Regions from separate parts of the Homo sapiens genome. Here region 1 is linked to region 2. The links come from fine-mapping of genetic effects on plasma protein levels. A gene starts in region 2. The other region holds a variant in brackets. All regions are shown on one strand. Distances are from middle to middle.

The links. A credible set is the group of variants that fine-mapping cannot tell apart. PIP is the chance, under the fine-mapping model, that this variant and not a neighbour inherited with it causes the effect. Protein levels are from antibody-based Olink assays in UK Biobank. Linkage for the fine-mapping came from a reference panel and not from the study's own genotypes, which makes the PIPs less certain.
Region 1: its variant is the best candidate, but not a certain one, in a credible set for the plasma level of the MBL2 protein (UK Biobank, PIP 0.86).

The regions. Positions count from the first base shown.
Region 1 is chr10:52,793,482-52,806,265 of GRCh38, forward strand. The region is part of intron 2 of LOC105378306 (a long non-coding RNA gene); the gene reads left to right. All of the region lies in intron 2 of LOC105378307 (a long non-coding RNA gene), which reads right to left. Among named protein-coding and RNA genes, the nearest start is that of MBL2, 27 kb to the left of the region's middle. The variant G/A (reference allele first, on the strand shown) is at 6,250.
Region 2 is chr10:52,771,647-52,783,824 of GRCh38, forward strand. MBL2 (mannose binding lectin 2) reads right to left here and starts at 1,138. Exons shown (of 5, transcript NM_001378373.1): 1 at 1,091-1,138. LOC105378306 (a long non-coding RNA gene) reads left to right here and starts at 7,512. Exons shown (of 4, transcript XR_945963.2): 1 at 7,512-7,897. It overlaps LOC105378307 (a long non-coding RNA gene), which reads right to left. Exons shown (of 4, transcript XR_945965.3): 4 at 10,495-10,892.

The DNA.
Region 1 (12,784 bases), 22 kb after region 2:
GAGAAAATGCAAAACAAAGAAATCAGCAGTCAGCAAGACTCAATAATCCTTCTGCACCTTAGAAGTTATCCAAGAAAATTTAATTACAATTGTAAGAACTTAATAGATCAAACTATCAGAATAATGTTCTGTCGTCTGCTATCAGATACATATGTTTGTAAATATTTTCAAAATTTAAAATGTGAATTTAATGAGAATCTGAATCTTTCTTTCTGTGGTTATAGAACTTCCTTAGAGGCATTATTTCATTTGAAGGCTTATCCCTTAAAAAGAAATGCATGATGACAGTGAAGGATACTTAGAATGTATTTATTTATTCAACAAATTCTTATCACAAGGCTGTGTTATGATATGTAGTAGGGAGCCAACAGTGAACAGAATAGACAAGGATCCTTTCTAATAGAACAAATATTCTAGTGAAAAATTCAACTTCTAAAACTTTTCAAATATCTACAGTGGAAAATAAACCATGATTCTCACTGAAAGTCTTTTTCAACAAGGCAGTAATCTCAAAATCTATCTTAAAAGGCATTACAGAATCTCTCTTGGTGCTTTAAATTGTTTCACCAAGCAGGTTATTCTATTGTTTAAAGTGTTAGCAAGGAAAGAAGAAATGTAATCAAAATGGATTACGTCTTACTGAGCCTGAATCTATGTGGATTTTTGTATTATTAATAAGTAAAACCCTAGTCTCAGACAAAAGATGAACTGGAAGATGGTTGTGTAATGGGGTGGATGTTCATAGGGACATGCATACCTAGTTTTAGTACTGAGCTTGTTACGAGCAACAGCCACAGTGTTTTACAGAAGAATGGCAAGTACTTATTAAGAAGCTAGTCAGTCAAGTAACAGTCATTTTAAAAATTTTCTACTGTACATTTGAATTTCATTTCATTCTTTGAGCCATGATTGATATATATGGCCCTTGATATGGCACTGTGCTTATGTCACACAATCTGAGTAAGAAACAGAAAAGACCTGTGGAAACTTGCGATCTTGCTGCTTATCATTTTCCTTAATGTTTCAAAATAATACAATAATCACAGTTTGCCAATTCCTTTTACATATATTGTCTTCTGCAAATTCTTTCCTGCCTTCTAGCAGGGAGTATAACATAATTATAAACCACATGGCAAATCCATGGTAGTTTCCAGTCTTTAGCTCCTTCTATTGTACTACCTCGACCAATTTTTTTTTCTGTTCCTCCTTATCAAAATGACTATAGTAAATATATCTTCTGCATATTATTTGTGAGTTTCAAATGAAATGACTTTTGTAATATTTAAGTGCTTGACACATATAAGCTCTTATTATTAACTTTCAGAAAAGCAAATTAAGCAAAAAAAAAAGTGTAGGGTGAAATTATCTTAAAAATTATAATCACAAACTAAATGCCACTTACAATATGTAGGTAGTTTCCAGAAAACAAGTATAAATTAACGATATTAGATTCTGAGAAATACATGTAGACGCTGTGTTTAAAAAGCTTCTAAATTTATATTTCTCATCTAGGAACTAATTCCAACTTTTTAGCTTATTGGCCCATCAAATATCACTTGATAAATATATACTAGATATAATATATCTAGTATATATTAGAACACTTTTCCGTGTCTTTAGATTTGCAGGTAGTATTTTACCCAGTTAAGTAACTTTGCTGAAGCAATATGTATTTCAATTTGCAGCAAATAGATCTTACATGGCTTATCACTTTCTATTGCAAATGAATTATGCAAATACTTTTTTTGTTTTTTAAAAAAATTTTAATAGGTTTTTGGGGAAGAGTGGTGTTTGCTTACATGAGTAAGTTCTTTAGCGGTGATTCCTGAGATTTTGGTGCACCCATCCTCTAAGCAGTGTACACTGTACCCAGTGTGTAGTATTTTATCCCTCACCCCCCTCCCACCATTTTCCCCAAGTCCCCAAAGCCCATTGTATCCTTCTTATGCCTTTGTATCCTCATATCTTAGCTCTCGTTTATAAGTGACAACACACAATGTTTGGTTTTCCATTCCTGAGTTACTTCACTTAGAATAATGATCTCCAGTTCCATCCTGGCTGTTGCAAATGCCATTATTTCATTCCTATTTATGGCTGAGTAGTATTCCATGGTATGTATATATACATATGCCACAGTTTCTTTATCCAGTTGTTCATTACTGGGCACTTGGGCTGGTTCCATATTTTTGCAATTATGAATTGTGTTGCCATAAACATGAGTGTGCAAGGATCTTATTCATATAATGACTTCTTTTCCTTTGGGTAGACACCCAGTTGTGGGGACTGCTGGATCAAATGGTAGTTCTACTTTTAGTTCTTTATGGAATCTCTATAGTTTTGCATTGTGGTTGTACTAGTTTACATTCCTATCAGCAATGTAAAAGTGTTCCCTTTTCACTGCATCCTCACCAACGTCTATTATTTTTTGATATTTTGATTATGGCCATTCTTGCAGGACTAAGATGGTATTGCGTTGTGGTTTTGATTTGCATTTCCCTGATCATTAGTGATGTTGAGCATTTTTTCATATGTTTGTTGATCATTTGTATATCTTCTTTGGAGAATTGCCTATTTATATCCTTAGCCCACTTTTTGATAGGATTGTTTGTATTTTTCTTGCTGATTTGTTTGAGTTTCTTGTAGATTCTGCATAGCAGTCCTTTGTCAGGTGTATAGATTGCAAAGATTTCCTCCCATTCTGTGCATTGTTTGTTTACTCTGCTGAATGTTTCTTTTTCTGTGCAGAGGCTTTTTAGTTTAATTAAATCCCATCTATTTATCTTTGTTTTTGTTGCATTGCTTTTGGGTTCTCAGTCATGAAGTCTTTGCCTAAGCCAATGTTTAGAAGGGTTTTTCCGATGTTATCGTCTAGAATTTTTATGGTTTCACGTCTTAGATTTAAGTCCTTGATCCATCCTGAGTTGATTTTTGTATAAGGTGAGAGATGAGGATCCAGTTTCATTCCCCTACATGTGGCTTGCCAATCATCCCAGTACCATATGTTCAATAGGGTGTCCTTTCCCCGCTTTATGTTTTTGTTTGCTTTGTCAAAGATCAGTTGGCTGTATGAATTTGGCTTTATTTCTGGGTTCTCTATTATTTTCCATTTGTCTCTGTGCCTATTTTTATACTAGTACCATGCTGTTTTGGTGACCATGGCCTTATAGGATAGTTTGAATATACTATACTGTATTATATTATAGTATAGGTAATGTGATGGCTCCAGATTTGTTCTTTTTGCTTAGTCTTGCTTTGGCTATGTGGGCTCTTTTTTTTGGTTCCATATGAATGTTTAGGATTGTTTTTTCTAGTTCTGTGAAGAATGATGATGGTATTTTGATGGGAATTGCATTGGTTTTGTAGATTGCTTTTGGCAGTATGGTCATTTTCACCATATTGATTCTACTCATCCATGAGATGAAATTCTGAAATTCATGATTCTGCACATCCATGTGTGTTTCCATTTGTTTGTGTCATCTATGATTTCTTTCAGCAGTGTTTTGTACTTTTCCTTGTAGAGGCCTTTCACTTCCTTAGTTAGGTATATTCCTAATATTTTATTTAAATTTTTTTGCAGCTAGTGTAAAAAGGGTTGAGTTCTTGATTTGATTCTCAGCTTGTTATATGGTTAGGCTTTGTGTCCCCACTCAAATCTCATCTTGATTTGTAATCCCCATAATCCCCATGTGCTAAGGGAAGTAATTGAATCATGAGGGTAGTTTCCCCAATGCTGTTCTCATGATAGTGAGTGAGTTCTCATGAGATCTGATCATTTTATAAGGGGTATTTTCCCCCTTCGCTGGGCACTTCTTCTTGCCACCTTGTGAAAAAGGTGCCTTGCTTCCACTTTGCCTTCTGCCATGATAGTAAGTTTCCTAAGGCATTCCCAACCATGCTGAACTGTGAGTCAATTAAACCTCTTTCATTTATAAATTGCCCAGTCTCAGGCAGTTTGTTATAGCAGTATGTAAACAGACTAATACACTTTGGTCACTGTTGGTATATAGCAGAGCTACTGATTTGTGTACATTAATATTGTATCCTGAAACTTTGTTGAATGCATTTATGAGTTCTAGGAGCTTTTTGGATGAGTCTTTAGGGTTTTCTAGGTATACGATCATATAATCAGAAAACAGTGAAAGTTTGACCTTCTCTTTGCTGATTTGGATGCCCTTTATTTCTTTCTTTTGTCTGCTTGCTCTGGCTAGGACTTCCAGTACTATGTCAAATAGAAGTGGTGAGAGTGGCCATCCTTGCCTTGTCTCAGTTCTCAGGGGGAATGCTTTCAGCTTTTCCCCATTCCGTATTATGTTTACTGTGTGTTTGTCATAGATTATCACATTATGGTATGTTCCTTCTATGCTGATTTTGCTGAGGGTTTTAGTCATAAAGGGATGCTGGATTTGGTCAAATGTTTTTCTGCATCTATCGAGATGATCATGTGATTTTTGTTTTTAATCCTGTTTATGCGATATATCACATTTATTGACTTGTGAACATTAAACCATCCCTGCGTCCCTGATATGAGGCCCACTTGATCATGGTGGATTATCTTTTAAATATGCTGTTGGATTCGGTTAGCTAGTATTTTGTTAAGGATTTTTGCATCTATATTCATCAGGGATATTGGTTTGTGTTTTATTTTTTGATTATGTCCTTTCCTGGTTTGGTATTAAGGTGATACTGGCTTCATAGAATGGTTTAGGGAGGGTTCCCTGTCTCTATCTTGTTGAATAATGTCAACAGGATTGGTGCCAATTCTTTGAATGTCTGATAGAATTCAGCTGTGAATTTGTCTGGTCCTAGAGGATTTTTGGTTAGCAATTTTTTTTTAATTTCAATCTTGTTCCTTGTTATTGGTCAGTTCAGAGTCTCTATTTCTTCCTGGTTTAATCTAGGAGGGTCGTATATTTCCAGGAATTTATCTATCTCCTCTAGGTTTTCTAGTTTATGTGCATAAAGGTGTTCGTAGCAGCCTTGAAGCATCCTTTGTATTTCTGTGGTATCAGTTGTAATATTTCCTGTTTCATTTCTAGTTGAGCTTATTTCAGTCCTTTTTCTTCTTTTCTTGGTTAATCTCACTAAAGGTCTATCAATTTTGTTTATCTTTTCAAAGAACCAGCTTTTTGTTTCATTTATCTTTTATATTTTTTTGTTTGTTTCAATTTTATTTAGTTCCGCTCTGATCCTTGTTATTTCTTTCCTTCTGCTGGATTTGGGTTTGGTTTATTCTTGTTTCTCTAGTTCCTTGAGGTGTGATTGTCTATTTGTGTTATTTGTGCTCTTTCAGATTTTTGGATGTAGGCATTTAAGGCTGTGAACTTTCTTCTTAACACCACCTTTGCTGTATCCCAGAGGTTTTGATAGGTTGTATCAATATGATAATTCAGTTCAAATAATTTTTACATTTTCATCTTGATTTCATTGTTGACCCAGTGGTTATTCAGGAGCAGGTTATTTAATTTCCATGTATTTGCATAGTTTTCAGGGTTCCTTTTGGAGTTGATTTCCAATTTTATTGCATTATGGTCTGAAAGAGTACTTGATATAACTTCAATTTTCTTAAATTTGTTGAGATTGTTCTGTGGCTTATCATATGGTCTATCTTAGAGAATGCTCCATGTGCTGATGAATAGAATGTATATTCTGTCATTGTTGGGTTTAATGTTCTGTAAATATCTGTTAAGTCTATTTGTTCTAGGGTATAGTTTAAATCCATTGTTTCTTTGTTGACTTTCTGTCTTGATAACCTGTCTAGTGCTGTCAGTATTGTATTGAAATGTCCCCCACTATTATTGTATTGCTGTGTATCTCATTTCTTAGGTCTAATCATAATTGTTTTATAAATTTGGGAGCTCCAGCATTAGGTGCATATATATTTAGGATTGTGATATTTTCCTGTTGAACAAGTTCTTTATCATTATATAATGTCCTTCTTTGTCTTTTTAAACTGCTGCTGCTTTAAAGTTTGTTTGTTCTGATATAAGAATAGCTACTCCTGCTTGCTTTTGGTGTCCATTTGCATGGAATATCTTTTTTCACCCCTTCACCTTCAGTTTATGTGAGTCCTTATGTGTGAAATAAGTCTCTTGAAGACAGCAGATACGTGATTGGTGAATTCTTATCCATTCTGCCATTCTGTATCTTTTAAGTGGAGCATTTACATTCAATGTTGGTATTGAGATGTGAGGTACTATTCTATTCATCATGCTATTTGTTTTTCTGAACACCTTGTTTATTTATTTATTT[G/A]TTTGTTTGTTTTGTTGTTTTATAGGTCCTGTGAGATTTATGCTTTAAGGGGATTCTATTTTGGTGTATTTTGAAGATTTGTTTCAGGATTTACAGCTGCTTTTAGCAGTTCTTGTAGTGCTGGCTTGGTAGTGGTGAATTCTCTCAGCATTTGTTTGTCTATAAAAGACTATCTTTCTTTCATTTATGAAGTTTAGTTTTACTGGATACAAAATTCTTGGCTGATAATTGTTTTGTTTAAGGAGGCTGAAGATAGGGCCCTCATCCCATCTAGCTTGTAGGGTTTCTGCTGAGAAATCTACTGTTAATCTAATAGGTTTTCCTTTACAAGTTACCTGGTGCTTTTCCCTCACAGCTCTTAAGATTCTTTCCTTTGTTTTGACTTTAGATAACCTGATGACTGCCTAGGCAATGATGTTTTTGTGATAAATTTCCCAGGTGTTCTTTGAGCTTCTTGTATTTAGATGTCTAGGTCTGTAGCAATGCTGGGGAAGTTTTCCTTGCTTATTCCCTCAAATATGTTTTCCAAACTTGTAGATTTCTCTTCTTCCTCAGGGATACCCATTATTCTTAGGCTTGGTCATTTAATATAATCCCAAACTTCTTGGAGGGTTTGTTCATTATTTTATTCTTTTTTCTTTGTCTTTGTTGGAATGGGTTAATTCAAAAACCTTGTCTTTGAGCCATGAAGTTCTTCCTTCTACTTGTTTGATTCTATTGCTGAGACTTTCTAGTGCAGTTTGTATTTCTCTAAGTGTCGCCTTCATTTCCAGAAGTTGTGGTTTTGTTTTAACTTATGCTATCTATTTCACTAAAGATTTTCCCCTTCATATCTTGTACCATTTTTTTGATTTCATTAAGTTGGACTTCACATTTCTCCAGTGCCTCCTTGATTAGCTTAATAATTGACCTTCTGAATTCTTTTTCTGTCAATTCAGAGATTTCCTCTTGGTTTGGATCCATTGCTGGTGAGCTTGTGTGATCTTTTCTGGGTGTTAAACAACCTTGTTTTGTCATATTACCAGAATTGTTTTTCTGGTTCTTTCTCATTTGGGTAGATTATGTCAGAGAGAGGATCTGGGGCTCAAGGGCTACTGTTCAGATTCTTTTGTCCCATGGGGTGCTTCCTTGATGTGTTGCTCTCCCCCTTCTCCTAGGGATGTGGGTTCCTGAAAGCCAAATTGTAGTGTTTGTTATGTCTCTTCTGGATCCAGCCACCCAGCTGAGCTACCAGCCTCTGGACTGGTACCGTTGGGTGTCTTCACAGAGTTCTGTGATTTGAACCATCTTCAGGTCTCTCAGTCATGGATAGCAGCACCTGCTCTAGTGGAGGTGGCAAGGAAGTAAAATGGACTCTGTGAGAGTCCTTAGTTGTAGTTTTGTTTCTTGCACTAGTTTTGTGTTGGTTGGCCTCCTGCCAGGAGGTGGTGCTTTCAAGACAGCATCAACTGCAGTAGCATAGGGAGGATCAGGTGGTGGATGGGGCCCTAGAACTCCAAAGAGATTACATCCTTTGCTTTCTGAGTTTTTCCGGCTGTCTCCAGTGGCCTGCAAGAGCAATCCACTTCCTTCAAAGGGTCTTTAGATTCTCTTAGCTTTCCCGGTATGTTTGTGCAGTAGTTACTGGAGTGAAAGTTCACGATGTGAGTCTCCACATGCTGCTCTGTCCATCTGATTGGGAGCTGCAATTTAGTCCTGCCTCCTACCCATTATATTCCTGCTTCAATCCCCCAACCAACACTCTGAGTTCCTCAAATACATCCTGAATGCTTCTGAGCTTTCAACTTTCTAACTGTAATTGCTTTTATTTCAGAGATTGACTTGGGAAATTATAGATAATGAAATCTGATGAAACTCTCTCTGACTAATAATCCATAATAAACAGTGGCCTGGGGGTGAGGTGGGGAAAGAATGTATAACACCTGAATACTAGTGAAGTCCTATGTTCTTGGAATTATAAAACTCGAGAAGTTAAAAAAAAAAAAAAAAGTCTTGACAGCTGACAACATGTTATACTGCTTCTTACAGACCAGAAATACTCCTCAGAATATTATCAATAATCAGAGGCCACAAGTGACTGTGGCCAAACAAGATATAAACAACACCACTCTGCAATCATGTCTAAATATCGGGAAAAGGACACTATGCAACCACAAAAATTACCAAGCATCCTTAGTTTCTGGCTAATTGAGTGGCTACAGTTTCTTTACTAATGATAACCCTAGCTTCTATCTCAGTTGTTTGGACTTATATTTTTTCTCTCTTTTAAGAATAATCTGAGTTTTGTTGACAAGCACAATGTTTTAATTGGTGTCCCAATAGAAAAACGTATCCCATTGGTCAGAAAAACAGAAAACATGTGTATTCCTAAGAAATACTCATAAACCAAGTAACTTTCCCCACCAAGCAATGACTCAGAGATATTATTGTAAAACTACTCTCCTAAAGAATTCAGAGCAGATTAATCATAATCCAAAGATTTCCCTGTCAGAGTGAATGTTAACTAAAAAGGGGAAGATATGTGCAAAGTGTTTTTAGGCTTAAATGAATGAATACAATATCCTCTTGATATTAACACATACAATTCTCACTTAAAAATTAAAAAATAAGAAATCTACAGATTAATGTCAGCAACAAAATTTTCTTGGATCTTCTAAATGGACATAGTTAAACAAATAAACTGTCCAGCATTTATTGTGAAGTGACATAATTAACAAATATATCTCTCACATATAGACATGCACATATGTATATGTCTATATAAAGATGGAATATATGTTCATTAGTATTATAAAATACATTTAATTACATGACTCAGTTTAATAGAATACTGTAGCCTTACCACATTCACTTACTCCTGGATGTATATCTACCAATTTTGAAGAAAAAAAGTAAATATTAAAATCATTACTTTGGATGGTAAGCAAAGATGTCAAGTCAAGTACTTTTTTATTCTACTTAGATGTTAAGGCTTTAAGTATGTCACTTAAATATGTATACAACATACTTCTAATGTGAATTTAGTTCTGGAATGCAATGCACTATTTTATTTGCTTTCCATTTGCAAATGAACTCTTACTCTTTTTACAGTTGCACTGCTTGACAGTTCCTTTATTACAGTTGACATAATTAAAATAGAACTATTTTACTTATAGTTATGATATATTATAGTAATTTAAACCAATGCTTTCACTAGAGTTCTTATTACAGTTGTTCAAACGTATTATTTTAATATAAAAACATTAAAATTTCACAAAGTAAAATGTCTGCAATTATTATCCTTAGTAAGTTGGTAATAAGCAACAATACAGAGTTTTGAAATGTACAGTAAATTTTAAAATAATAAACATGGATGAGGAAAAGCTCCAATCTTCAACAACATTCATATATTGTGGAATGTGTCGTTAGTGATATGTACATTTCAAATAAATGAAAGTTAGTATAAAGATTATGATTTAGTAAAATGTGTACGGATCTGGATATATTGATATTTACTGCAAATTGATAAATATAACATCTGCAATGGTCTGAAAAATTTTAAAAGCTCCTCTGACTTTAACACAAACATCGGTATGTCCTAGTTACTATTGCTACATAATAAATCATCTTGAATTGGCTAAAACAACAGCCATTTTATTATGCTCAAAGATTCTACAGTTCAGGAATATAGAAAGGGCAGACAGTTGAGGCTTCTGTTTTTTGGGGCTTCAGGAAGATGTTTTCTGGCCTTTTGGGTCTACTGATGCTCCTGCAGGAAGGCTGCAGTTCTTAACAGCACATGGGGAGCCCTCATCTGGTGTTTGGCTTAATTCCTGGTGCCTGGATTTCTGGAGAGAGGTGTGATTAATGTGGCCAAGAACATCCTTTTCCACCCATGTTGGAGAGATCGCTGTGTGGATCTGGTCCCTACAATTTAGAAGCAGCTTTTCACCTTGATGCTCAAATGACCATGCTTAACCACTACTTGCCCTGCATCCTTTTCACCAGCTGAGATTCCCAGCAAGCAGTAGGCTCCCATCCTGGACTCCAAGGAGACAACTCTTCCCTGCACCTTCACCTGGAAAGCTGTTGCCCTTTCTTCCCAGATCACGATCACAAGACTCCAAATTACCGAGTGGGGTCCAACAAGGTGGGACTGTAAGGAACATGTCCTGTGGACATTACCTTCACTGTTCTCATGAGTGGGATGGGAAGAAAAGAGTCCTCCCCTTCCAATTGGTGGATTTTCTGGGCTTGGAAGGAGGAAAACAAAAACAAAAACAACCAAACAGAAAATAACTATTACCTGAATTATTATGAAACTTCAGAGAAAACTACTTATTTGAAGAAAATAAAATACGATTTATGTTGTTGAATTTGCATTGCCAGAAAGTTTCCAGTGTCCTTACTACAATTTTTTTTTCACCATCAAGTTTGGTCAGAATCTCACAGCTCAGAGAAAATTATGGAGGAATAATAAGATCTAGAGCAGTGCTTCTCGTATCTTATGTGTGAAGAATCTTTTATTAATTTGTTTAATTTCCAGACTGACAGTTTTGTAAAATGCCTTATTAGAAAAAATTTTAAAAATAAAGAAATAAAAAGTCAAGCCCCAAATATTGTATTTTAACACCCTAAAATTTCATTTCAATAAATATAATCAAAGTAACATAACAGGAATAAAAGAATTACACAAACTGAACACATTATTCATTGAAATAAGCATAGTTGCAATTAATATAGATAATTCTGTTAAACTTATGTCATTCTGCAATCATAATGTTATAAGTTATGAAAAATAGCAATCTCCTATATTAGAATACCTCTAAGAGCACTTTCAACAAATGCCGTATTTATCAATATTTAAATATTTTAGTGTGTCAAAAAAATTGCATCTTTCCTATGGACTTTTCTGATCTGGACTGAGTGGGGGTGACGAAATGGCTCACAGGGCATGTGTAATATGTCTATATGATTTATTTTAATAATACTCACAGCAGAGAAACCTCTCAGAGATTTTGAAAGCAATTTTATTAAGCTCTGGATATTTATTTCAACGTTCCATCAATGACAGTTCCAACAAGTTAGCTTCTTAAGTTATAGTTATATTGAAATCATCTTTCAAAGGAAATGCACTAAGGATTTTCTAGACTTTGAGGTTACAATTGCAGAACCAATCTTAAAATATGCCATACTGTAAGGTGGTCCTACTGTGCATGACTAATGCTGGGGTCAGACTCAGGAAACGCTGATCAATTGTTAGAGAGCAGGTCTCTACCCTGATCAACCACAGGGGTCCAGTGATCACACCTGGAGGTCCTGGCAATGTCAAATTGCTCTAGGAGTGTGCACCTGAGTCTCAACTTTGATATTATTCCCTTTATCAAATAATACTGGATTACAGAGCATTCAACGCAAAGAGAAATATCTTTCTGATTTTCTCTCTGGCTTGAGCATCTACCTTAATCATATTCACTAAATTAATGGAATTCTGCCCACATGTCTTTTACACAAAAGAACTGTGAATTTAAAATGCAGCCGTGGTGTTACTCACAAGTGCCCACATCCCAAGTCAGATCCACAAAGAAATGAAATACTCTCCATACTCAAACCCCCTTTGCCCTTTTTTTTTCAGTTGATTTTCATATTTATGTTATCTATCAGAAGCTTAATAATTCTCGCTCTGTGAAATTATGTTTATGACAGTGCTGTGAATTCTCGGGTGGTATTTACTGCAGAGTGGTAGACCCCTGTCAATGCAGCTCTGGCTCTGGCAGAAATGCCAGCATTACACTGTAGCCCATGGCAGACTCTACTATCCTCAGCACCACGCAAGAGTCAGCAGTCACCACCTCCCGAGAGAGTCAGTCACCCTCAGCCTTGGAGCAGCAACTCACCCTCTGCGTGCTACAAATCCCCCGGGCTGGAAGTCCTGGCGCCAAGCCTGCGAGCTTCCCGGGTGTTGACCTGCGCCTAAGTCCTTAAGTGACTCTGTCCTCGAAGGAACGCACTTTTAAACAGTCCCTTTGTCCAAAGAGGCAAGAGTTTTGCCCTTCGGTGGTGTGAACCTACAGTACTCCCCATGCCCTGTGTTTTCCGGGTGAACTCGGAGACCAGGGGCTGTGATGCGAGCTCCAGGCTCGCTGCAGGAGAGGGAGGCTCTTCCTAGAATGTGGTGGTAGTGCTGACAGGTGATTGTTTCTCACTGCTGGTGAAAGCGCCATCAAAGCCCCCACTTTCTGAAATGGTAGTTCTGGTTTCCTCACAGACTTACGTGTGCGCTTGCAACATTAAAGTTTTCTTCTCTCCTGGGAAAAAATACAGTATCTCATTGTGCCTCTCAGCAGTGCTTCTACCCGGTGACCTCTTTGCCAGGGCCGAAGCTGAGCCTGGATAGGATCACCTGGCGCACGGGGATGGGACAGGCAGGCACACAGGAAAGAACCACTGTCCTGTGCTCCCAGGTGACCTTTTGCCAGGAGAAAGAATCCTCCAAGGGAGCGGAAAAAGTCAAGACCTCCAGGAACGTGTGTGTCTCACACCAGAATCTTTAATG
Region 2 (12,178 bases):
TGGTGTGAGAAAACTCAGGGAAGGTTAATCTCAGTTAATGAACACATATTTACCGAGCATGCCCTCTGTCCTACAATCTGGGTGCAGGCTATATAGAAATAGATGACCCATCCCTGGCCTCTAGCTGGGGATTTGGAAAAGTAAACATTCCTTGTGACACTGCGTGACTAGTACTTTAACAAAGGTAGGCACTATGATGAGCAGTGGGGATCCTAAGGAGGGGTTCATCTGTGCCTAGACACCTGGCGTTGCTGCTGGAAGACTATAAACATGCTTTCGGTGGCAGTGAGAACAAATGGGACCGTGCATTGCCAGCTGGCTTATGCCTGTTAGCTTAGGGAATGAGAATGAGTGGAAACCCAGGTGTCTGTAGGAGCTTCCTCTTTCTCTCCATGTCCTCTTCGGGTCCATCTGCCACCTGAATCCCATCTTTGTATCTGGGCAGCTGATTCCCCTCCAGGACCTGTTAACTATCATTTACTCATTGGCAGGCCCTGAGCTGAAAGCTGGTGATCCAAAGAGGAAGGTCTCAACCTCAGATCAACCTCAACCTTAGTCACCAACCCAGCCCAGAATTAACTGGAGTTTGCTTCCCCTTGGTGTTTTAGACAGGCTTGCCTGGGTAAGCATTTTCTCTGGAAATTTCTTACTACGTTGGCCCTGGCAGAGTGCTAAATACCTCTCTACTTTCTGGCAGGAATTCCCCATGTTCTGTGAGTCAAAAACCACTGGCAATTAGAAAACTTGCCTTGAATCCTCCTCCCATTTCTCAGTATTAACCTTTCATTTGTTCTTCAGAGCTTTCTTCCAGCTATTGCCCCCTAAGAAACCTCAGCAGCCTAGCCCCATAGGTCTAAGCCTCCAAGTTTCCCTTTGAAAACAAAGACAGTCTCCACTGCAGATGAACAGATAATGGAGGAAAGTCACAGATGCTCCAGCACAAGCAGAAAAAGAGACATCCTCAACCTGATTTCTGCTTTCCATCCCACTCCCCCCACCCCTAGAAAGCCTCCTCCATGCCTCCAGGGTCATGTCAGCTCCCCAAACCCTTGATCCGGAAACCCAGATTTATTCACCAGAAATGACTTACTGGTGTTTCTGCAGAGCAGGGACTCAGTGACAAGGACGCTGGCCCTCTAGCCTGGGGCTCTGGCAGATGCCTCAGAGTGAGGGAGGAGGCTGGGCTCAGCAATGTAGGGCCCAATCAACCTTGTGAACAAGGATATCCTGGGCCTGGCCTTCAACTCCAGATTAATAAACAGCTCTTCTCAGAACTATGAGAAATTTAGGAGCCTCCAATACAGTGCTCGGCAGCTGTCTGCTTTAATACAGCACAATTCCTCTTTCAATTGCCATCCATTTTGGCAAATCTCATTGCTGAACTACCACAGCTAGGTTCACCTAGTTAGTCCTGTTGACATCCTTGTTTCCAACAGAAAAACAAAGATACTCACAAATGCATACACATGCTCATGCACACCAACTATACACACAGACACGTGCATGCACGCACACACCCATCCATGAAACCACATAGACCTCTTGCTGCCATTAATGCATTAAGGCCATTCCTGCCTCAGACTCTTCATTTGATGTCTCCATGCCTGGACCCCTTACGGGCATCGCCAGCTAGCTCTTTCTCTTCTATTCAAATATTCCAATTTCAGAGAAATCAGTACCTTGATCACTTATTCTAAAATAGTCCTACCTAGCAGTCTCTATCCTCTTAGCCTGAATTATTTTCTCTCATGTTACTTACACTTTATGATATTATAGTCATTGACTTTACTTTTCCAGTTTTTCATTGTGGTAAAATAGACATAAAATTTACCATTTTGACCATTATTATTAAGCACACAACTCAGTAGCATTAAGTACATTCACACGGTTGTGCTATCATCACCACATCATGGGATGATTTTCATCATCCCAAACTGAAACTCTCAACTCATTAAACTAGAATTCTCCATTTACCCCTACCCACAGCCACTGGTAACTTCTGTTTTACTTTCTGTCTCTCTGAATTCATCTATCCTAGGTACCTCATATATGTGAAATCATACAATAGCCCCCTTGTATCTGGCTTATTTCACTTAGCACAATGTCTTCAAATTTCATCCTCATAACAAGAATTGTAAACTGTGTTAAAGACTTTGGGTTTCCTTCCAGGGGGCACTAGAGGGACTGCAGTAGTGGAGAGGTGATCACATTTGAATTTTGCAAGGCTTGTTCTGGCTATGATGTTGAGGGGAACAGGACTGGAGAAAAGCAGATCTAAAAGGAAGTGCTTGCCATGATCTAAGCAGCAGAAGACAGTGGCCTGGGTCAGGGTAATGGCAGCTAGATTAAGAAGGTAGGCACACTTGAGAAACAGGAGGTATTGATTGCACTTGAGAATTAGCTAGAATAGTGAGTGATAATAAGAAGTTTTCATGGGCACACACATTTATGACTTGACTATCTAGGAGCCACTCAACTGAGATAAGAAGCAAAAGAACAGCACTTGGCACTATAAGATCATGGGTATCGTGTGTGTTAATGGCTTGAACCATCTTGCTGTGGTTAATGGGGACAATCTAGAAGGGATGGAAGAATACTTTTACGAACATAGTTCATTTGATTCTCAACTACATTACTGATATGGCTTTCAGAAAAATGCCATGTAGCTTGGGGTGTTGGGGAGCCCATCCTGAGAAGTTCAGAGGCTGCGGGGCCATGTGGTGGGGGTACTATGGAGGCCTCCAAACACCAAAAGAAATGTGAGTAAGATGCATTTCCAGGTCCCTTCCAATTGAAGTCTTCTTGGCTTGTGGAGGGACTGGCTTCCTTACTTCCTGCTGACCTGTCTGCTGTGCCTGGAAAAATGTCCAGGATGGTACAGAGCCACATGCCTAAAGCCATCAGTGGATATCAGGAGATCCAGGGCCTAAAGAAGACAGGGCCTGAGAAGACTTGTTTCCCTTCTTATTCTTTAGCAGCCAGAGCTTCCCCCTGCTCCTGCTCCAGTGGCAGAAGGTGAGGTGAGGTAGTTGACTCCAGGTCACTGGCGGTGCTGGCTTTAATCACAGTGCTTGCTTTCATTGTTTACCTAGTCCAGAGGTCAGGAAACTGCTCTCCAGACCCTGAAATTTCCTAGAACTGGGTTCAGAGGGTGTGGGTATCTGGGGGAAAGTCAATCTAGCAATTGATCCGGAGATTGGAGTGTCACCCAGTTACATCCTGCTCTCCAGAAGGCCTTTCCCAAAAGGAGAGGCCACTCTCCACATGCCGCAGCCTGAATGTCTCTCTCCACACGAATGCCCACTCTGCACTCCACCCCATAGATAAGGCCACTGTGTGCATTTGTTCTGGACTTTAAAACCCTTCCCAGCCAGGCGTGGTGGCTCACTCCTGTAATCCCAGCACCTTGGGAGGCCGAGGCGGGCGGATCATGAGGTCAGGAGATTGAGACCATCCTGGCTAACACAGTGAAACCCCATCTCTACTAAAAAATACAAAAAAAAAAAAAACAACAAACTAGCCGGGCGTGGTGGCGGGTGCCTGTAATCCCAGCTACCCAGGAGGCTGAGGCAGGAGAATGGAGTGAGCCCGGGAGGCGGAGCTTGCAGTGAGCTGAGATTGCACCACTGCGCTCCAGCCTGGGCGACAGAGCCTCTCCGTCTAAAAAAAAAAAAAACTTTCCACTTTCCTAACACTGCTTCCATTCTGGCAGCGCCACAACAAATCCACCTCACCCCAAGAGGCTGCAGAGAAAACTGCCTCTCTGACCTGCAGGAGGACTGCCTGGTGCCCTACATCCCCTTTTTTGTAGACTAGGGTGAAATCCCAGCTCTCCCACTTCCCAACAGTGTGACCTTATTCAAGTTCCACTGCCTTCATGTCCTCAGTTTCCTCGTCTGGGAAAGAGGGCACCGCTGCCTTGGCTGTGGAGTGGTGTGTCCTTAACTGGTCCACATTCAGAGTGCATGGCACGTGGCTCACCATGACAGCCTGCTTAAGAAAGGCCTTCATTCCCTCCAGGGTGACTGTTCAAGAGTCTTCTCAGCTTGGGAAGCAGTGTTCTTGGGTGGCTCCATGTGAGAGGCATGGTTTGAGATTGGAAACCAGAAGGCTTGGTTTTGTCTCATGAATATGAGCTTAGATAGACCCCATATTCTGGCCGAACCTCAGTTTTACATCTTTCAAATCAGATTTTGAACCTCATTCCCTTTTCCACAGAGCTGCTGTGAGTAGGACAATAGCAATGAGAATGTTATTGCTCTCCAAGTGAGGACCATCAGGAATATGCTTATAGTCAGATAAAATGGATTTATTATTTTTAGTTTCTTTTAACTGTTTGTTCCAACAGGGATATTGAGCACAATGGTGTACCCTAGGATTTCTCAGTAACAGGGTGTCGGGAGGGGATTTCTATAAGACTTGTTTTGTTTTAGTTGGTTTTGGGGGAAGGGGTTTAAGAAGCAGGAGTCTGTTCTGGATAGGGTGCTGTCCGTAAGCTGGGCAATTCTGTGATTGTGCATCTTAACTTTTATTTAGGAGATAAGTAGAACAGAGCAAGGCGAAGCTGTATTTTGTAAAAGAGTGGCAGATGTTTATATTAAGCAGGAGAGGGGCATGTTTTTCGTTTTTGTGGTTCACAGAGCAACCTTTTCTGTCTATATGAAGACATGATTTTGGAATGATTTGGGATCTCACAACAGAGTAATATTGTTGTACACCGGTATTCTGTGGAAGTGTTTAGGGTCAGCAGGGAATACCATGGTCTGGCCATGAGAGACAGGCTGTGAGAGACAGCTGACAGCGGTAGGCTGCTTTCTTGTTGTCAGCAGTGTCCTTTGTAACCCTAAGGCCTGACCTTCCCATACTTTTCATCCTGTACTGTCCTGTGTTCCAGTCCTGCTATTTTTTCTTTGCTTGTTTTTGCTCATGAACTCTCTGAGAATGTGTAAATGTCACAGGCCTTCTTTTTAACCAACACAAATACACAGGCGCACTGCATCTGGCAAGGACTACCTTAGGCCCCTATAGCCATGGGGTGGGTGGTCAGAGGGTGTCATATCTGCCCATGTGATAGAGACATGCTTATCTGTGACATGGCCTTGAACACAGGGTGGCTGCAGTGAAAGGCAGCTCAGTAGTTAGGATAGCAAAGACCTGCTCTTTTGCCACAGAAATCAGAACACATGTGGCTTTCAGACTCTCCTCAGACATTCCTTACTGCCATTCTTCCTTCTGCCCCTTCACTCCCAGGCCTGGTATATTCCTTCCACCAGCGTCCTCCCTCTGGGGCAGCTTCCCTCTCTAAAAAAAAAAAACAAGAATTTCCTAGTGGGTGACCATCATTGATAGGTTTCTGGGGCCAGGGACACTTCTTGTCCAGGCCCATTCTCTGCCTCTGCTTTGGCTCACCTGGTGACCTAGAGCAGCATGTGTCAGAGGTGACCAGACAGGCTACACCCCCAAAAGGAGGTTGCTCACTGCTAAGATAAAGAGCAGGCTGAGAGGGGCACGATCAGCACAATGGAAAGATAAGGACCAGAAGCACACACTACTGGCTGCAAAATTATTGGAAAGGAATACCAGTAATTTAAAATAAGTATAATCAATATCCATAGAAAAATCAGTGAAGATACTGCCCACATGACACAAGCAAGAGGCAGTAGAAAAGCAATGAAGTAGAAATATTAACATGGACATTAGCCATTAGAATAATAAACACGATAGAAAGTGCAAACCATCAGGGTGCATATTGCTGAAGAACACACGGAGAAACTGCAAGAGCAGAGCAAAGGACTCTTGCAGGACTGGGAAACTGGAGAGATGGAAGTCAGGGGGTTAGAAACAGGAGATTTGGCGTATTAAAGACAAACAAGCAAAGCTTTCTGACACACAAAACGGAGTTGGAGAGATGGTACTCCTGCATCTAAACCAACCAGTCCCACAGATACCAGCAAGGAGGAGTGGAAGAGACAGAGATGGCAGCTCCCCAGGCCTGAAACTGGGAACATAGGGAGGATACCGCAGAGAGGTGCTCACCTTTCGAGGCTTACCAAAAGCCATGGCACAGTGAGTGCTTGGGCTCTAACCAATTAGATCACCAAACCGCCTTCCCTGTGATGGTTAAAAATCTAGATATTTAGGGTAGGATCAGAAATGTAGGGAGTTGGGCAGAAACACTCTTCTTCCCAACACCATCTCACTTGATTCTTGTGATTAGCTGCATGTAAGAGCCAAGCCTGGGTACAACAGGGAAAAAATCATAAGTGACCCCAAAGAGCTTCCAATATCATGAGGCAGCTTTCCTGGTACCCTTCCTGCTCTTTTCTACCTTCCTGGGACCAGAGACACAGAAAGCTCAGATGTAGATTAATGATAGATTAATTGCATTATTAACGGATTAATTGCATCATTAATTTACCTAAGATCCCACACTGTACGCTTCGACAAAAATTCACCCTGTATGTATCCATGTGTGTGCGTGTGCATGCACTTGTGTACATATACTTGTGTATGTGCTTGGGAGAGGGGGAGTATCTGAATGGGAGTCTGTGCCATTTCTTAAAGTCTGTCTCCCCACCTGTGATTAAATGAGCTCACCTGTAGCTTTGCGAGGATGAAAAGGTTTAGCACTCTGGAGCCAATCAGGAAACAGACATCACACAGTGATCTAAACAGGGGTAGTTTAATATAAAGAATTATTAAACCCTGATTAAAAAGTATAGAATGTAAGACATTCTGTATGGTTCAGACCTCACTGGAGAAAGGGTAGTTGAACCCACTGGGTGGCTGTGCTAATTTTTTGGGCCAGAGCTTCTCTGCAGTTCTGGGACAAGCAGGCATCAGCCCCCCTCCGGAGCACAGGTGGGCCAGGCAAGCCGCAGGTCCTGGCCGCAGTGGTCGCGCCGCGGGAGTGGGTCGTAGGTGCAACAGGCGGCCCGGAGCGCGGTGTCCCTGTTGGGAGGGGCACCGCTTCCCTAAGATTGCGGGAGACACACCTGGGGGAAGAGGGAGGGACGAGCAGAGGCAGCACAACAGAGGTGCAGGCAGGAGGCTTCGTGCCTCGGTGTCCCTGTCGCGAGGGCTGCAGGGGGTTGGTGGCGAGGCCAGGGCGCAACTGCAAGCCCCCGGATTCGCGGCCAGACTGCGCATTCCAACCGCGGTGCCCCCAGATGTTCCCACCCGCCAGGCCGACTCCCGAGGGGGCCTCCCGAAACTGCAGGAGCCCCCTTCTTCTTGCCATGTCTCTCTAGCGCCCTCTACTGAGAAGCTTTGCATCGTGCTCACTCGAAAAACGCTGAAAGGAATTCTGTGGTTTAATCACAGAGCATGTTTTGAAGGGTAAATTGGGAGCTGAGAGTCCTTTGATGCCTGGCACAGTAGGTGTGTCCGCATCGTCGTGCACACGGTAAGTCCACAGGCCCTGTGTGCTCCCTTTGTCTGCAGCTGTGACATCAAGGGTCCCTCCAGCCCGGCCTCGCGGCAAAGCTGAGCAGCAAAGGAAGGCAGAGGGGTGGGCCTTGCCGGCTTTGGGCCCAGAGGCTGGAGGCTGGGCTCCCTCTTTCTTCCCTTCCTCCTTTCCTCTTTCCCTCCTTCCTTTCTTCCTTGCTTCTCCCTCCTCCCCTCCCTGCCTCCCTCCTCCCATCTCTGTCTCCCTCTTCCCCTCCCTGCTTCCCTCCTCCCCACCTTCCCTCCCTCTTCCCCTCCTTCCCTCCCTCTTCCCCTCCTTCCCTCCCTCTTCCCCTCCTTCCCTCCCTCTTCCCCTCCTTCCCTCCCTCCTCAAGCACAACACATCCACATCGGCCCCCAGCCCAGCGCAGCTTTAAGAGACCCACTTACCTCAGAGGAACCCAATCAATCCCCACAAACACCTCTCTAGAATAGGAAGATGGAGATACAGGTGAGTCTGTCCTGGACAGAAAAGTAGAGACCCTGGAGGAGAGTGCGTTGAATTGATTGAGAGTGAACTGCCTATTGAATTGGAGGTGGGGGACGGTCGGGGAGGGTTAAGGGAGACCTTCTCTTCCAGAAGGGCCAAGGAAAGGCTGGTTCCACAGGGCTGGCTGGGCTACAGACCAGCTGCCTCTCCCCTCTGCATACAGTTGGGTACCCAGTCACCAGACCCCCCAAGTGAGGGGGTCAGGAAGGTGTCACGGACAGATGTACACATATCTCATTTTCATTCCACTCCATCCTGACCTGAGGGTTGTGACTTAGACAAGCGCCCTCATCTTGTTGAGCCTCAGTTATTCAGCTGTAAATGGGCGGAAGGAGAGCATTTAGTAATGGTAAATATGTAAGAGTGCTAATCGGGAAGCTCTACCCACTGAGAAAACAAGAAAAAAAATTCTTGGCGCTGAAAGAGGACCAAGAAGGATTGCTTTCTGAGATAGGTGCGGACAGACACACGCAGACCTAGAATAACGAGGTCAGACTCACCCAGGAATACTTGGCCCCAAGTTGACTCCCCTGTTTAAAGAGCGATAGAATGGTGGAGAGGGAGGATTGTCTTCTCAGGCGGCTCTGTATGGCCTCCAGGGGCCATGGTGAGGGATGGGGGTATCCTGGCCCTGAAGGCCCAGGGCACTTGAGGGAAGAACAAACTTTGCTGTGTCCCACAGGGAAAGTATGGGTCAGCCCTGCCATCTTGTGGCCATGCTTAGGACTGCAGGGGGCCAAGGGATACCCTGAGAGATCAGAGTACATTTCAAGGAGAAAGAAAAGCATTGCAAATGTTAGGTGTAGTAAAGATCTTGGCATTTGAAAGACTAAATCCAGACTCGGGTCTCTGGAACTTCCCAGGGTGCCAGGCATCTCGCAAATAGTAGTGCTGTCTCTCCTCTCCTCCCTTTCCAAGATGTGAGCTCTGGGCTGCAGATTCTGGGCCTGGATTCTGGTCTCCTCGTTCTGGGAGCTGCTCTCTGGGCTGACCCCAGGGCCTTGATCTAATTTTTTTCTTTGAAACTTGAGTTCTAAATTTGGGGTCTGGTCCCTGTCCTGACTGTCTAGCCTCAGTCCATCTATCTCTGGGCTTGGTTGTTTGAGATCATGGCTGAAGGTTAGGAGATCAGAGCTCCTGGTCTCTGCTCTGGTCTCTGAACTTAGACCTCGGGAATCAGGACACCAAGCCCTTGGTCATGGCTCATGCTACGTGGATGAACTCTGGGCTCCATTTGACTTTGTGGTCTCTACCCTCTGGATAGGCAGGAGTCTATGTTGTAAGCCCTGAACAACCAGTCACTGGATCTGCTCCAGGTCAGGTGGCTCTGGGGTCTGCTGGCTGGTGCTTCATTTGAGGCTACTCCTCCTCGAGGTTGTTGCTCTGGGCTGTGGGGTTAGGATTTTAGCCAGATTCTTCATGCCAGGCTGGAAACACAGGTAGCAGGTCTTGCATCTTGTAAAGGATAAAAGAGGCTCTTGCAGATACACAGGGAGCTGGGCCTGCCTGGACACTTCCTCCTCAGGAACTGCCCTAGGAAACATGGACCTGGCCAAAGATTTGTCCTGGGAGGATTGAGGGCCCACAGGCACATCCTGAAGAGATGCAGAAACTTGCCCATCCCTGATGTCTCAAGCCAGCCCAGATATAAACACAGAAATGGAGACAGACAACTTCAGACATTGGACTGTGAGATGAGGAGAGAGGGTCGGGCTCACTGTGGTCATCCTATCCTGTATCTTTCACACTGCCTGAAACATGGGACCACAGCAAACATTTGTTAATCAATAAAAGCAATGAGCTATGAGAGAAAAATTAGAAAGATGTAGAAGGACAAAGGGAGGGAGAAGGAACAGGCATTTGTTGACTAACTGATATGTGCTTCTGTGTGCTAGTTGCTTTATAGGTAATACCTCACTTAATTCACACAACGCCTTGAGTTGGTATACAGTATGTCATCTGTGTTGAGGTGACAAGGCCCTTCCCAGGTTCCACGATTCACTAGGAGGACTCCTGGGACTCAGCCTATAGTCATACCCATGGCTATAATTTATTTACTTATTTATTTATATGAGACGGAGTCTTACTCTATTGCCCAGGCTGGAGTGCAGTGGCACAATCATGGCTCACTGCAACCTCTGCCTCCCGGGTTCAAGCAGTTCTCATGCCTCAGCCTCGCAAATAGCTGGGATTACAGACATGTGCCACCACACCTGGCTATTTTTTGTATTTTTAGTAGAGACAGGGTTTCACCATGTAGGTCAAGCTGGTCTCAGACTCCTGACCTCAGTGATCCACCCGCTTTGGCCTTCCAAAGTGCTGGGATTACAGGCATGAGTCACTGCACCCAGCTATGGCTATAATTTATTATAGTGAAAAGATGCAAAGCAAAATCAGCAAAGGGAAAAAGGTGCAGGAGGTGAAGTCTGGAGGAAACCAATTGCAAGCTTCCAAGAGTCCTCTTTCAGTGGAACCACAGAGGGTATGCTTAATTCCTCCAGCAACAGACTCTGACAACATATGTGTAATATTATGTACGAGTGAAGCTCATTAGAGACTGAGTGTCCAAAGTTTTTATTGGATGTTGGTCACTTTCTGCCTAGCATGCACCAAAATTCCGGACTCCTAGAAGGAAAAGAGGTGTTTAGCATAAATCATATTGTTTGTATAACAGTTTAGGTACAGTGAGCCACTCTTGTAAGTTCTGGGAATGGTGGGAACTCTTGAGAAATACAAGCTCCCAGACTTCAGCCAAAGGCCAACCTTGCAAGTAGGCCTCTAAAAATAATAGTCTCGGGCCTACTGTGTGCAATTTTTCTTCACCTTGAGTATGACTGGTACTCTGCCTTTGGACTGTGAACCCAGTGTCTCCTCACCAGAGGGTGTCCTCTCATCAACAGCCTCCAGGGTGTCAGTTTGAAGAAATCACAGAAGGAGGGCTGGACCCTGTGGGGGCCTGGAAGGAAGATAAATTTGGGGAAGATTAATATTTAAAGGTTTGAAAAAACCCACCAAGGCTAACCAAAAGTGCTTAAGACCTGCAGAATCTGTATGAATCTTAGCACTGGATATCCCCCTGTGATGTGGGGTGCAGGGTCAGACCCAAGCACTTTACAGACTGTATGGCATTTAATCTCTCCAGGCATCCTGTGGGTGTCAGAGTAAATGTCCCCATTTCTCAGATGAGGGAAGAACTGCAAATACAACCCAAAGTCTGCTAGCCTTTAAAGCCATTATTTGCTCCTCAGTCCAATCAATATTCTGTGTGACCATGGCTCCAACTGACAACATCTGCCTTTTTATGTCATCACTAGAGTGTGACTGGTCCACTGTGAGTTCCTAAACTCCCCTCACATCCTTTTCTTGCAGAAAACCTCCGCTTCCGCCTTCCCAGGCCTACTGCTCTGCCTTTGTTCTTTCACTTCTTCAACATGGCAAACTCTGTTCCTGCTTCTGCCTCAGTGCAGTCTGGCCCACTGCCTGGGATGCTATACCTTCTTCTTTCTCATGGTTTCTTTCCCCTACTACAGGACACACATATCTCAGAATGGTGGATGATTTGTGAGTATTTCGTGTTCCTCCACCAGAGGTAAACTCTTGAGGACTGGCAACCACTCTGTAACACATGAAATGTCAACCTATGATCAGAGAATATGAAAATCCAGAAGTGCTTGGTATTCTGGGCAAATTGAGCTCTGTGAATAATATAGAATTGCATTCGCATCCTAGTCAACCATGGGATAAGAGAAGCCTCAATGTTCAGACCAAGGACAATCAGTGTCTGATCCTAAAAGAAAGATACAGGCTCTAGAAAAAGAAATCTAATTCATCACAACACAAGTGGAAGATGCCAAGACACACATGCTTGAACCTATCACAGAAAACTGAAAAAATTCTCATCATTTCCATACAGAGATCCAGCACTTGTGTGAAGAGTAAGTTCAAGTTTCTGCAGGATTGTTAGCGCAAAACCGAAGAACTGGCAGCCTCCCTGGGAGAGGAGAACATTGGTGATAATGTCCAATCAGAGAATGGAGATCATGTTGAAACTAGGCAAAAGGATCCTAGAGGAAACTGAAGGGTTTTGTAGGGAAGTTGGACGTTTAAACATTGAAAATAGAGGAAAATTCAATCTATGCCAACGTTGCTGAAGAAGAGTACAGAAAAGCTGAACGGACAAGTCCTCTGAAAGGGGCTCAAACTGAAGAAGCTGAATGAAAAGGTCAGATCCGCATCTTAGAG